2 linked regions of the Homo sapiens genome follow. The protein of the gene in region 1 purifies or fractionates together with the protein of each later gene. This does not show direct contact. Each region holds a gene or a part of one and is shown on either strand. Other genes may lie near its edges.

Evidence for each region.
Region 2: the proteins of ACAP2 (region 1) and RAB11FIP3 purify together in Homo sapiens (affinity purification with western blotting, with the first as the bait; one study listed by BioGRID). This does not show direct contact.

The regions. Positions count from the first base shown.
Region 1 is NC_000003.12:195,299,792-195,303,857, forward strand, and holds part of ACAP2 (arf-GAP with coiled-coil, ANK repeat and PH domain-containing protein 2), read right to left. Parts: intron 2,384-4,066; coding exon 2,175-2,383; intron 1,854-2,174; coding exon 1,784-1,853; intron 1-1,783. UniProt on the Homo sapiens protein: GTPase-activating protein (GAP) for ADP ribosylation factor 6 (ARF6). Doesn't show GAP activity for RAB35.
Region 2 is NC_000016.10:428,366-432,148, reverse strand, and holds part of RAB11FIP3 (rab11 family-interacting protein 3), read right to left. Parts: intron 1-3,783. UniProt on the Homo sapiens protein: Downstream effector molecule for Rab11 GTPase which is involved in endocytic trafficking, cytokinesis and intracellular ciliogenesis by participating in membrane delivery. Recruited by Rab11 to endosomes where it links Rab11 to dynein motor complex.

The sequences.
Region 1 (4,066 bases):
CGCGCCACTGCACTCCAGCTTGGGCGACACAGCGAGACTCCCTCTCAAAAAAAAGAGAGAATTTGGAAAAAATATCAAGAGTTAGGCACACATTTTCTACTCTACACTAAATAAATTCACAATATACTACGATTAAAATTTGAAAAATATTCTTATAAAAATGAGTGAATTTCAAAAAAAATTAAAAACATTCTATTTTAAAAAGAATGGGAATTAGTATCTACTTTCCGTCTTTCTTTTTTCTTTTTTTTTCTTTTTTTTTTTTTTTTTTTTGAGACACAGTCTTCCTCTGTTGCCCAGGCCGGAGTGCAGTGGTGCGATCTCGGCTCACTGCAACCTCTGCCTCCTGGATTCAAGCAATTCTCCTGCCTCAGCCTCTCGAGTAGCTGGGACTACAGGTGTGTGCCACCACGCCTGGCTAATTTTTGTATTTTTAATAGAGACAGTTTCACCATGTTGGCGAGGCTGGTTTCAAACTCCTGACCTCAAGTGATCTGCCCACCTTGGCCTCCCAAAGTGCTGGGATTACAGGCATGAGCCACCGCACCCGGCCACAGGATTTCAGACAGAAACAAATGAGCATATACTCCAACCCTTAAACTCATCTATTTTCTACAATATGGTAAACTAGATGGCAGGAATTAAAAGGATTATACTACTATTTCGAATTTTGTAAATCTTATCAGAAACCGGTAGTGGTCTAAAATTATTTATGACATTTTCATAGATATAAATTCTTAGACACAGGGAAAAAAGGAAGACTTGGTATGATGACTCCTAACCTGACAAATATAAATTTGCAAATCATCGTATGCTGAAACAACCCAATGGTGTCAAAAGCTTTTCTAATCCATTATGAAGTTTAGTATAGCAATAGACCTCTTATATATTTAAAAAGAATCTAATCAGAAAAGATTAAAATTAAGGCATAGAATCTGAACTGGGCCAAGGGTAGTGGCTCACACCTGTAGTCCCAGCACTTTGGGAGGCCGAGGTAGATGGACTGCTTGAGCCCAGGAGTACAAGGCCAGTCTGGGCAACATGGTGAAACCATGTCTCTACGAAAAATACAAAAATTAGCCAGGCATGGTGGCATGCATCTGTGGTGTCAATTGCTTGGGGGGTCTGCAGCACGAGGATTCTTTGAGCCAAGGAAGTCCCGGCTGCAGTAAGCTGTGATGGTGCCACTACACAGCCTGCACAAGGGAGCGAAGACCTTGTCTCAAGGAAAACAAGAACAGTGAACTAACCTGGAGTTAAGAGTGCTATATATAAATATAGCCTTTTTTTTTTCTTTTTTTCTTTTTCTTTTTTGAGACGGAGTCTCTCTGTTACCCAGGCTGGAGTGCAGTGGCGCGATCTCGGCTCACTGCAAGCTCTGCCTCCCGGGTTCACGCCATTCTCCTGCCTCAGCCTCCTGAGTAGCTAGGACTACAGGCACCCGCCACCACGCCTGGCTAATTTTTTGTATTTTTTAGTAGAGACGGGGTTTCACCGTGTTAGCCAGGATGGTCTCGATCTCCTGACCTCATGATCCGCCCGCCTCGGCTTCCTAAAGTGCTGGGATTACAGGCGTGAGCCACCGCACCCAGCCAAATGTAGCCATTTTTAAAACTTACAATGAAAACACCAGATTTGCCAAAATAGCCTCAGATGTGTTTCAATACAATTTAGCTAGCATACATTGGTAGCATGAAGAACTCACACATTTGTAAACCAAGATTCTAAAATCTTCACTTTCATGTGAAAATATGAAATATTTTAAAGCAAAAATTTTTTTTACCTTTAAAAGTTCTGGCTCCCAGGTGTCTAAAGTTAAAGATCGTACTTTTGAAAAATGAACCCCAAGGCTCCTAAGTGGAAAAAAGAAGACTGCATTACTATCAAGTCTCTGTTTGCGTATTTGCGCAAGTTCTGTTTTAACGTGACACAGGCTCTAATAAAGCCCTCGGCATACACATATAGGCACAGATCTTCTGTTTAATAATGAATGATGAACCAAAGTCCTCAACAGCTTTTACAAACCAGGATTTTAACTACTTCTTAAAAGGTACAAAGATACAAACTGGTGATTAAATTAGGGAAGTGGAAAAGGGCAACTAACAAGTGAAACAACCATTTCTATCTGTGTTTATCCAAAAGAAGAAATTCTCATCCTGGGCAGGCCTACCCACCGGTGAATTCCGGAGCACTCGATACACAAGGTGATGCCCAGGTTGATGCTGGCCCACCGTGGATCTGCCAGGCCACAGTCACAACAGCTGGCATTGCCAGGGATACACTGGACCCGCTGAAGCGCACTTTCTCCTTTCAATAATTTCTCTTTGGACTCATTTCCAGAATCTAGGCTTCCTGTGGATGGAGATGATTTCTTATCCAGCTTCTAAAAGAATTAAGAATTACTTGTTTTTAAAAAAAAAAAAGATTGAAATACTTTGTTGCACACTACATGCTCCAAACTAAAGCTTCCAATCAATAAATTAAAGGCCTGTTACAGGCATAAGCAAGGCAATAGTCTAGCTAGAAATTCAAGGATAAAAAGATGTAGGTTCTTCCATCAGTGAGCTTTTATTCCAGTGGGGAGAAACGTGTAAACATTTAAAATTATATATAATAAATGACACAATGAACATATGTACAAAAGATGAAGACAGAAAGGGAACACTAGTCTAACATGCAGGGTGGAGACAGAGGAAATAGGTAAGGGATTATTCAAACTCAAGAATGAAATAAATATTATTGTTTTATACCACACTTTTCCAAGGCGTTCAATAAACTTTAAGCTAGTCATTGTTTTTTTTTTCAGACCTCTCAGGGATAAGGCAAGTTAATTACTGCAGTGAGTAACTAGGAAAGGTATGAGCTTATATAAATAGTAAAGAAGAGATCAACTACAAAATTATAACTACAGAGTGAATCAAATATAGAACATACAATGTTTAAAACTTCAAGGGATATTAGGTAAAAGAGAAGAAAAGCAAAAGATGGCTGATTAACAAAAAGTTAATTTTTTGGCCGAGAGCGGTGTCACCCCTGTAATCCCAGCACTTTAGGAAGCTGAAGCGGGAGGACCACTTGGGTCCAGGTGTTCAAGATCAGCCTGGGCAACAGAGCAAGAGCCTGTCTCTAAAAAAGAATATGTCTGGGCACAATGGCTCATGTCTGTAATCCCAACACTTTGGGAGGCTGAGGCGGGTGGATCACTTTAGGCCAGGAGTTCAAGACCAGCCTGGCCAACACAGTGAAACCCTGTCTCTACTAAAAATACAAAAAAATTAGCTGGGCGTGGTGGCGCACACCTGTGATCCCAGCTACTCAGGAGGCTGAGACATGAGAATAGCTTAAACCCAGGAAACGGAGGTTGCAGTGAGCCAAGATCATGTTGACAAGAGTGAGACTCCAACCTGGGTGACAGAGTGAGACTCCGTCATATGAGCGTAAATACATACATACATACAAACATACAAATTAGCTAGGCATGGTGATGCACACCTGTGGTCCCAGCTACTCAGAAGGCTGAGGCATGAGAATTGCTTAAACCCGGGAGGGGGCTATTGTAGTAAGCCAAGATCATGCCACCGCACTCCAGCCTGGGTGACAGAGTGAGACTCCATCATATGTACATAAATACATACATACATACAAATTAGCTAGGCATGGTGGTGCACACCTGTGGTCCCAGCTACTCAGAAGGCTGAGGCATGAGAATCACTTAAACCCAGGAGGCAGAGGTTGCAGTGAGCCAAGATCATGACACCGTACTCCAGCCTGGGTGACAGAGTGAGACTCCATCATATGTACATAAATACATACATACATACAAACAAATAAGCTAGACATGGTGGTAAGCACCTGTGGTCCCAGCTACTCAGGAGACTGAGGTAGGAGGACTGCTTGAGCCCAGGAGGTCAAGGCTGCAGTGAACTATGATCACACCACTGCATTCCAGCCTGGGAAACAGGGCAAGACTCTGTCTCCCCGCCATCCTGCTACATGGCCATAATGACCGAATACAAAGATGTGGTACTTAGATCCTAAACAATGACAGATATGGTCTATAAAAAGT
Region 2 (3,783 bases), on another chromosome or scaffold:
GGCCTCCCAAAGTGTTGGGATGACAGGTGTGAGTTACCGCGCCAGGCCAGTTTCTTTTAAAACAATGAACATCTATAAAAATAATTTAGCTTCACTGGGCGCCATAGCTCATGCCTATCATCCCAGCACTTTGGGAGGCCGAGGTGGGCGGATCATGCGGTCAGGAGATCAAGACCATACTGGCTAACACGGTGAAACCTCATCTCTAATAAAAATACAAAAAAATTAGCCGGGAGGGGTGGCGGGCGCCTGTAGTCCCAGCTACTCAGGAGGCTGAGGCAGGAGAATGGCATAAACCCGGGAGGCGGAGCTTGCAGCGAGCCAAGATCACGCCACTGCACTCCAGCCTGGGTGACAGAGCGAGACTCCATCTCAAAAAAAAAAAAAAATTTAGCTTCTACCCCAATATGATCTCAATTGTGTACTTTTATAGACAGTCACCTGTGTGTCTATGTCTGTGTTAAAAAAGGTCTGGGCCAGGTGCGGTGGCTCACATCTGTAATCCCAACACTTTGGGAGGCTGAGGCAGGTGGATCACTTGAGGTCTGGTGTTCGAGACCAGCCTAGTCAACACGGCGAAACCCCGTCTCTACTAAAAATATAAAAATTAGCCAGGCGTTGCACGCCTGTAGTCCAAGCTACTCAGGAGACTCAGGCAAGACAATCGCTTGAACCCACGTGGTGGAGGTTGCAGTGAACTGAGATTGTGCCACTGCACTCCAGCATGGGCAAGAGAGCAAGACTCTATTTCAAAAAAAAAAAAAAAGTCTGAAAAGAAATGTAGTAAAATAATGGGAATGTTATTTTTCTCAGGATAGTGGGATTATTGGTCATTTTCTGTTTTATACAACCCAAGCTTCATTTGCCTTTCAGCAATTCAGTCAGCATGTAGACCCAGAATACATACACTCACCTGCTCACACACATACATAATATGCCACTTACACACAAATATCCCACTCCCACATACACACATCCCTGATCCTGCAGACACATGCTCCCACACATCTCACCGCACACACATATTACACACACACACACCAGCTCACATATGTAACTGCTCACACACACACATGCTCACTCTCATTCACACACACTTTCACTCAAATTCAAGGCTAAGAGACTGGAAATGATACAGGGCAAATAAAAGGCGATGCCAGGCTGGGCGCTACGGCTCATGCCTGCAATCCCAGAACTTTGAGAGGCTGAGGCCCGAGGACGGTCGCTTGAGCCTGGGAGTTCAATAATATGCCTGGGCAGTATCACTATACTATACTTCATCTCTACAAAAATAATTTTTAAAAATGTTTGTATTTTTAGTAGAGACGGGGTTTCACCGTCTCCTGACCTCATGATCTGCCCGCCTCAGCCTCCCAAAATGCTGGGATTACAGGCGTGAGCCACTGCACCCAGCCAATTTTTTTAAATTAGCGGAGCATGGTCATGCCTGCCTATAGTCCCAGCTACTCAGGAGGCTAAGATGAGAGGACTGCTTGAGCCCAGGAGGTGGAGGTTGCAGTGAGCTGAGATCTTGCCACTGCACTTCAGACTGGGTGACAGAGTGAGATCCTGTCTCAAAACAAACGAACAAAAAGGTGCAGTCAAATGTCCCTAGGAACTTCCTACTGCCACCATTAGCGGTGCAGGAATAAAAAAACGTAGGGAGATCTGAGCATCGACACTTCCTTCGGCAGCCTATTTCTGCAAGTACTGAAGACAGACAATGCCTACCAAGGTTACTGAAGGACATTCTCTGAAAAGAATCAGTGGCTATTAAAACGCAACTGCTTAAGTGACTGTAAAAATAACATGTAAATTACAGTTATAATCTTTAAAAACAAAACAAAATTAAAGTAATCCTTTCTCACAACACTCTTAGAATTTATTTTACAATCTCTGCTTCATGATAGGTGGCAGTAAATACAAAAGCATCAGTCCTCTCAGTATGAAGGGGTCATGTCAATCTCCAGAGATGGTTGAAGCCTTAAAAATCACCTATTCCAACTTCATACCTAATTCCTGGACACATCTGACTATAAATTCCTGTTTCAAAAAAATATAACCAGAAAGCTCCACTTGCTCCTTTCATGTGCTGATTTCTGCTAACACAACACTGTGTTATATTACACTACACCTGATCTATCACCAGATGACGTAATTAGATCCAAACACACCATGACATTGCTAAAGAAACAGGGACACAAAAGCCATCTGTATTATAAACAGGAGCTGCTTCTATTAAAAATTCAGATAATCCATTTAAATAATTTAAAATGCTACCTTCATAAACAGATTACATAGAAGATACTCAATATGCTACCTCTGAAAATTTGATAAAAATTAAGATACTTGGCCGGGCACAGTGGCTCATGCCTGTAATCCCAGCACTTTGGGAGGCCGAGGCGGGTGGATCACCTGAGGTCAAGAGTTCAAGACCAGCCTGGCCAACATGGCAAAACCGTCTCTACTAAAAATACAAAAAATAGCCAGGTGTGGTGACGGGCACCGGTAATCCCAGCTACTCGGGAGGCTGAAGCAGGAGAATCGCTTGAACCCGGGAGGCAGAGGTTGCAGTGAGCCGAGATCACACCATTGCACTCCAGCCTGGGCGACAGAGCAGGCGAGACTCCATCTCAAAAAAAAAAAAAAATTAAGATAATCTAGTTGTTATCATCAAGGACAGTAATGTGACTGGACTAAGAGTCTCTCATGTGCTCAATATTTTGAAATCTCAAGGTAGAAAGTACAAAAACTTATGACCTTTATTGCTGTTATCCAGTTAATCTGAACTGTTCCCTAGCGTTTTTAAAAAAATCATTAATGTCTTTAAAAGAATCGGTATCTTTTGGAAATATATACTGAAGCATTTATGGAAGAAATGATATAATGTCAGGAACCCACTTCAAAAATCATCTGGGGGTAGTGAGTGGTGAGTTTACAGATGAACCAAGACTGCTAAAACTGAGCAATGGCTACAGGGTTACATAACATGAAAATCAACCTTTCTTTACCCTGTAAATTATCTGTTGCCAAACAGTAACTTAGCTTTAAGAAATCAAGAGCTCTCCTCCATCCCAGGAAGCCGGCCCAAGTCCAGGCACTCAGATCACACCCAACATTGCTTCTTCCTAAGCCGTCTAGAAGAACAGACAAGGAGTAATACCACAGGAGATCCCTTCCACTTCCCCATCCTCACCAAATCCCAAGTCATCCAGCCCTTGCCCCCAACCTTCGAATTTCATCAAGAGCTCTTGGAATTCAGAGTGAAGAATTTTGTCTCATTTCTACTTTGTGATGACAAGAAAGCTCAGCCCCAAATAGCAACACAAAGTTTTTCCCATTGTGATCATTAAGGGAGGTTATGACAAAAGATGTTTCTCAAATAAAAAGAATTGTATGAAAGTCAGTAAGATATTATCACAATAGGGATATTGTGAGCCACCACATCTAAGAAGAGGCATCTAAGGTCTAAGGGCCAAAAGACCTAGTTCTACTCCTGTGAGACCTTGGGAGAGCTATCTGACCTTTCTGGGTTTCCAGTTTCTTACCTGTAAAGTGGGGATGAATCCTGCTTACCTACTATCTCAGAGAACTGTGGTATGATCCAGTGGAAACATCCTGAGCCTCACAGAAGTTCTCTATCAAGAGTTGGGTTATGGTAACAAGGAGCAAATGTGGTACTCTCCTAACTTCTTTGCTGTACTGAAGCAAGAGTATGTTTGGGAGAAGAGACAGCGCAGTAGCCAACAGCAACCAAGGGAGCTCAAGGTGCTCTCCAGCCCA